Homo sapiens: one gene and its partner. The protein of the gene in region 1 purifies or fractionates together with the protein of each later gene. This does not show direct contact. Each region holds a gene or a part of one and is shown in the gene's direction. Other genes may lie near its edges.

Region 1 (3,819 bases):
AGCCACCCTGTATTGACTGCTCTCCCCAGATGGCTGTGTCCTCAGAGCTCAGACAGCGGGGCTGACCTCACGCAGCTGGCGGGGTAGAGCCAAGGTTGGAATGCAGGTTCCTGCTCTGTGCACTCCTGTCCTGGGCCCCTGCCTGACAGCCAAGCCCACCTTTGTCTGTCCCTACACAGTGTCTTCCCACGGGAGTTGAAAGAGGTGTTTGCCTCGTGGAGGCAGGAGTGCAGCAGTCGCGGCCGCCCGGACATCAGTGAGCGGCTCATCAGCGCCTCCCTCTTCCTGCGCTTCCTCTGCCCAGCCATCATGTCGCCCTCACTCTTCAACCTGCTGCAGGAGTACCCTGATGACCGCACTGCCCGCACCCTCACCCTCATCGCCAAGGTCACCCAGAACCTGGCCAACTTTGCCAAGTGAGTGCCTCCTCCCTCACCAGGCAGAGTTGGGCAGGGCTGGTGTCCACAGGGCAGGCCCTGGGGGTGTTTCTGCCCCCAAGCTGAGCAGAGACCATAAACAGGCCCTGGTTTTGTCCCTGTCATCCTCAGTCCTTCTCCTTCCCGCTTTTTAAAAAATAAAATCTCCACACCCTGTCCTTCTACTCAAGGTATATGTCATTTTGGTATGTTTCTTAATTTTTAAAGGTGACGACATGAGACATTTTTTTCCTTCTGCTTTTTTGAATTAATGTATTATTATAAGGATTCTCACATATCCCTTAACATTCATTAAGCCCTGTTTTGAAATAAATGACTAATATTCCTCCAAGGGGGACTGGCCCATATTTCCTTAATCCATTCCCTGTGCTTGGGCACTTGGGTTGGGCACCACCATCCTGGTGTCAGGCTATCAGGATGTCTTTGCTGATAAAGCACTATTGGTGTTTTTGGCTGCATCCTTAGAGCAAGTGGGCAGAAGTAGAAGGGCTGGGTCGTCTCACTGTTGTTCATTCTCAAAACATAGATTGAGCCCCATCCTGGGGCCATCTGTGTGCTGGGCTCTGACGGCACCAAGATGAATCAGTCCTGGTGGCGCTCAGCACTTCAGCCAGGGAGACGTGTGGAATGAGCAGGAGAGCAGTGATAGACACACACGAGCCTCTTAGGAGGGCTCTCAGCTTGTTGGGAGAGGAGACAGGAAAGCCTCCAGGGTGACATGATCCCCCAACTGCATGTCAGGGTGAGGCGTTCATTGTCTCAAGAGGAGCAGAGGCTGGGCATCCCAGGGAGGGCCATGCACTGTGCCAGGTCAGGAGAAGCGGGCGATGAGACCTAAGAGGACAGCAGGGACCTGAAGGCCAGACAGGGCTGTGGGAGCCACCAGAGGGTTTTAAACAAGGGAGAGGATGGCCTTCCTCTGTTCTGGATCCTGAAAAGCTCACCCTGACAGCAGTGGGCAGATGGGTTGGAGGGAGCAGGATGGTAGCCAGGAGACGTGAAAGGAGAGCATAGCTGTGGTTCCAGCAACAATAGCAGAAAATTCGCAGGGAGGGGAGCGGGTACAGGAGGCAGTGGCTGCAAGGGACAAGGTTAGGGGTGATTAGAAGGCAAAATCAGTGGGCCGTGCCATTTGGGAATGAGGAAGAGGGAGGAGTTGACAGCTGCCAGAGATTCTGTCTCAGGTGTATCTGTATGGGTAGTGGGGTCTCCACTTAGGGTAGGGAGCTCAGGAGGAGGGCATGGGTTTGGGTGTTGATGATGACTTCAGGTGTGGCAGGCTGAGTAGGAGGGACTCCCAGGGGTGGTGCCTGCAGATATATTAATACATGCCTGAAAGCTCATTGGGAGACCTGGGTTGAGCAGGGATTGAGCATCATCTGCATACCAGGGCAGTGAAACTTGGAGGAAAAGCCGAAGGACACTGTTAACAGGCAGTGTATGGGGGACACAGAACATTCCAGGTCCTGAGATAAAAGGTTCAGAAAAGGATCGCTGGACTTACCATGAGCAAGGAGGGCCCTGGTGACCTGGGTCAGAGCATATTCAGCTGACTTGGGGAGTGAATGGAGTGGGAGCCTGCCATAGTGGGGAAAGCGGGTGGTGGTGTCCCAGTGGAGGGAGTTCCTGGGCAGGGCCTGCCTGGGCCCAGTAGTGCTCACCCAACTGCCCTCTCTCCAGATTTGGCAGCAAGGAGGAATACATGTCCTTCATGAACCAGTTCCTAGAGCATGAGTGGACCAACATGCAGCGCTTCCTGCTGGAGATCTCCAACCCCGAGACCCTCTCCAATACAGCCGGCTTCGAGGGCTACATCGACCTGGGCCGCGAGCTCTCCAGCCTGCACTCACTGCTCTGGGAGGCCGTCAGCCAGCTGGAGCAGGTGCCTGTTGCCGTGGGGCGGAGGTGGGGCCAAAAGCTGCCATCAGGCTTTTAGTGTTCCCCCTTCCAGAGTAACCATGGAGGGCAGAGAGTTTGCCCAAGTGGCATGATCAGGCCAGGTCCTGTCAGAACACACTGGGGATCTGTGGGCCCCATTTTCTCTGTGGGCAAATGCTATGTTCACTCAGCAGTATCTGCCAAGGCTGCCCCACTCTGGGTACTAGAGCTGGGGTGTTCCGCATGCACTCAGCCTTTAGTGGACAAGCGCCACTGTGCTGCCTGCCAGAGCATGTGAGAAATAGAATTGGATCGTGAATCCGCCTGTATGAAGAAGATGACTCAAGACCCTGTACCTCCACTTGTCCAGCAGGAAGTCGAAAACCTTTCTAGGATTGCCCTTGACCATCAGTTGACAAGGTTACTCCCTAGACACCTCTGACACTGCTGCAGTCACCTGAAGTGAGCCCTCCCTAGCCCGAGACTTCACTGACCCCCAGCCTCAGCCCACACAGTGAGCAACTAGTTCTTGGACTTAAGGGCTGGGTCTACCAGGAACTACTTCCCGAATATCTGTTGCTTTCTAGGGCTCCAAGGGACCACCTTACTTTTGTAAGGTGCTGAAACTGGCCTGGAAGGCCCTTCATGCCTCCTGGTCCCATTCCCTAGAGGTGACCGCTCAGAGCACTGGTATGCAGCCTTCTGGACACGATCTGTGCATGTGTAAGCGCACACACACATGCAGGCGCACACACATAGAGCTCTTTTCCTTCTTCAGTTTGTTTTAAAGCAAGAACATACTGTGTATGCTGCTGTGTGCATTTCTTACCACTGTGTTGTGGGCCTCTTTGCTTGTCAGTGCAATCTCCACCACCCCCAGGGACTTTTTAATGACTGCATTGTATGAATGCTATTTATTTCACCAGTCCCCTATTGATGGACACTTAGGTTAGTCCTGACTTTTCACTAGAAATAGGTCCTGTTGCAATCAAAGGCCATCATTTTTGCTCATTTGTATCCACTTGCCTTTGGCTGTGAGAGACACAGGAGGGAGAAATGGAAATGAGGGCTGAGACCCTACATTCCACCTGTTCCAGTCCCTGCACTGCAGCCAACACTAGTCACTGTCACTGCCACCACTTACCTTTCCCCTGTGCTGTCCACGTATCTGCACAACCAGGCAGGAAGAATGGAAGGTGATCAGTATTGTCACATCGGTGATAGGGTGCAACAGGGATTTGAAACTCAACTGTTTGCCTCTCAATTGCGTGCTCTATTGCCTGCATGAGTTTTCACACTTTGTTTTCTCACAGAGACCTCTGTGGAAGCTTGTGCATAAACAGGTGAAGGCAGTGTCCCCAAAGCCTAGAATCCTCTGCCCCTTAAGTTCTCTAAAGCGTGCCAGCAAGGTTCAGATGGGTTCAGGCACTGCCTTCTGCCTGACCAGCACCTGAGGGTGCCTGCAGTGTGCTTGGACCATCTCCACTGGGGCTCAGGTGCCAAG
Region 2 (3,441 bases), on another chromosome or scaffold:
TCCAAATATACACAAAGGCATAAGAATGATATAATAGACTGTGGGGACTCAGGGGAAATTGGTGGGAGGGGGGTGAGGGATAAAAGACCATACATTGGGTACGGTGTACTCAAGGCCAGGCCTGTTCCTTTGTCCTCGTAGGTACCTAGAATGAAAACTGTTCACTCAAAGACTCCCATTCTGTTAAGCACATCTTACAGGGGTCACAACTAGGCCCCCTAAGCATACTGATCATTAACAGAATGACTGTTATCTTCTCTCACCAAGGAAAGAGCTCTAATTTCTCCTCCCCTTTCAGTTAACCTGCTGAGGCCACTCCTAAATACCTATACTGGCTTTCAATGTGTGACTGATTGCAACTATTGCTTTTTACAAAACTACCCCAAAACTTAGTGGCTGAAAACACACATTTATTATCTCCCAGTTTCTACAGGTCAGAAATCTGGGTGTGGCTTAGCTGGGTTCCTTGGTTCAAGGTTTCTCACAGGCCACTGCAAGGCCAGGACTGTGGTCCCCTCAAGACTAGATGGAGGGATGATTCACAACCAAGCTCATTCACATGGCTGTTGGCACCATTCCTCAAAGGGTGTTGGCCAAAGGCCACCCTTAGTTCCTTGCCACTTGGACTTCCCCATAAGGCAGCTCACACATGGCAGCTGGCTTCATCAGAACCAGCAAGTAAGAAGAGCCCCAGAGAAGGAGAGAGTAAGAGAACAAGACAAAATCACAGTCTTATGTAACCTAATCTTAGAATCACCCATTGCTTTTGCCATATCCTACAGTCGTCCCTCGGTATACGCAGGGCATTGGTTCCAGCATCCCTGTGTTTACCCCAGTCCGTGCATGCATACTTAAGTTCTGCAGATGACCCTGCAGAAGCCACATATTTGAAAAGCTGACACTCCTTATATGTGGATTTCTCATCTCGCAAATAATGTATTTTCGATCTACATGTTTGTTTGAACAAAATCCATGTATAGGTGTCCTGTGCTGTTCAAACCCATGTTGTCCAAGGGTCAACTGTATTTCTTAGAAGTCACTAGGTCCACCACTTGAGGGGAGAGGATTGCACAAGCGTGTGAATACTAGGAGATGGGGTTCATCTCAGAAGCTGTCTACCACTGTGATGAAAGGGTAATTCAGTGGGGGTGTATGAGCAAATTCTCAAGTAAAGCTGTTTTGGCCTAGGTGAAAAGAGGCTTTAGATAGATACATCTCTTAAACAAATGACACCTAAGCACGGCTGCTTGCGTACAGTAGGTGCTAAATAATTACTGTTTTTCTTTCTTTTACCTTTTCATTTGGGAATAATCTCTAAGTTAAAGTTGCAAGAAGAGTGAAAGAATTTCATATACCTTTCACAGATTCACCGTTTGTCAATAATTATATTTTGAATACATTATAAAATATGTCACATTGGAGGACAATATTTGTAACCATCAAAACTTTGGGGCCTGGTGAGAAGTGTAGGCTGGAGTCATATTGGATCTCTGCATATGGAGTTGTCATCTCTCAAATGCTTGCTTCTTCCTCTTCTTCCTCCAGAAAATCCTGAGCGAGCAGCTCTGTACTTTGTTTCTGGCGTGTGCATCGGGCTGGTGCTGACCCTGGCTGCTCTGGTGATAAGGATCTCTTGCCACACAGACTGCAGGCGGCGTCCCGGGAAGAAGTTCCTGCAGGACAGAGAGAGCAGCAGCGACAGCAGCGACAGCGAGGATGGCAGTGAGGACACCGTGTCCGATCTCTCCGTGCGGAGACACCGCCGCTTCGAGAGGACTTTGAACAAGAATGTGTTCACCTCTGCGGAGGAGCTGGAGCGCGCCCAGCGGCTGGAGGAGCGCGAGCGCATCATCAGGGAGATCTGGATGAATGGCCAGCCTGAGGTGCCCGGGACCAGGAGCCTGAATCGCTACTATTAGGGAGCAGCAGGACCCCGGAAACCACTGGAGGCCGCCTGGAAAGGAGAGCGTCTGCAGGGACAGTGGGCACAAGGAACTGAACCCAGCTCTGCTAATATTGTGATTTCAGAGAAAAAGCAGGACATGCCCCTTTTCTAGCCAGGAGGATTGCTCCTTTTTGGCCAAATGTATGGAGAAGTAGAAAAATCAAAGCAGTTCATCACCCTTTCCAGGTCTCGGAATGGTGCTGAAAAATCCTCTCCAACACTGTGGATGGAGATCGGAGAAACGCGACTGTGGTTTCTCTTGATTTCTGAGGATCTCAGAAGTTTCAGCAGACTTCCTTGCTCTGTGTTATTCCTTTGCAAAAGGAAAGATCATTATAGCATGAGGGCTGGGAATAGCAGGGTGAACTTAACCCAATAAATGCAATTTCCTAAATGACTTCATGCTATGGAGGTGATTCTGATTCAAATAGCATGATCCATGCTTATTATTTAAGGCTGATTTTTAAAATCTTGTGTTGCAAGGGCAACCTCGTCCATTTTAACTGGCACCTCAGGGATTAAAATCCTACTTTTTAGTGTAGTTCCCACCTCATTCATGAAAATGAATAGAACTATTGTATTATGGGAGATGTGTCAGTGAACTAGAAAATGTCAATAACCTCAAAGGATGAAGGGTTTTTATTTTAAATAGTTTATAAAATATATATTGACATGCATATTTGAAAATGCTGCATAAAAATAAAAGTGGTGTGTTTTCCCCCTCTTTGGAGACAAGAAAATTTTATTATGACTCTAGATAATTGTGATTTTAAACACTTTGTTTTTTTTTTTTTTTTTAATTGGATTTCAAAGAAAAGAATGGAAATGAGAGGTAAGGATTAAAGCCAAAGTTAGGATGGGAATTAAAAAAATAAACATTACATAAAATCTTTTTGGTTGCATGTCCGTCTCTGTGGTTACCCTTACCTTAAATGACAACCCTTTTATATACGTGGGTATGGGCTTTTGCCAGGCCCCTCAAGGATTAGAGTGGGGAGATGGTTCCCGTGTGATAATGGGCTTTTCACTTTCTGTAGGTTATATGTATGATTGCTATAGTTGAGTTGTTAAGCAGATAGAGGAATAGAAGACTTCCCTAAAGCTAGAAATAAGATGGTAGCCCTTATATGAAAAGAAGTTGGTAGGGAAGGAGGAGAAGCCAGGCTCTGCCAATTTAGAAATAGGTTACAGAGGACAAAACATCCCCTAAGCTGGTAAACAGGAAGAGTGAGACCTGTCTCTCTGTTGACTCCCTTCTCTTGTCATGGAGTAGATTCCTAGTCAGTCTATCTGGGTGCTCCAGGGCCTTCCTGCTGGGAGGCTCTCCCCTGTTCATTGACTTTGTCACCATGCTTAAGAGGATGGTCAGGAGACTTCCTCTGGTGAGGTCTCCACTGCTTTAGCAACCCACTTTTTGTTGTAAGGACTCTTGGAGGGCTCTGTTAAGAACTGAACAATCATAATCATAATCTTTGCTTGCCAAGGGGGCAATAAAG

What was found.
Region 2: the proteins of DAB2IP (region 1) and EVA1A fractionate together in Homo sapiens (co-fractionation; one large-scale study listed by BioGRID). This does not show direct contact.

What each region holds. Positions count from the first base shown.
Region 1 is NC_000009.12:121,766,315-121,770,133, forward strand, and holds part of DAB2IP (disabled homolog 2-interacting protein), read left to right. Parts: intron 1-179; coding exon 180-416; intron 417-2,117; coding exon 2,118-2,319; intron 2,320-3,819. UniProt on the Homo sapiens protein: Functions as a scaffold protein implicated in the regulation of a large spectrum of both general and specialized signaling pathways.
Region 2 is NC_000002.12:75,491,714-75,495,154, reverse strand, and holds the end of EVA1A (protein eva-1 homolog A), read left to right. Parts: intron 1-1,545; coding exon 1,546-1,919; 3' UTR 1,920-2,837; downstream 2,838-3,441. UniProt on the Homo sapiens protein: Acts as a regulator of programmed cell death, mediating both autophagy and apoptosis.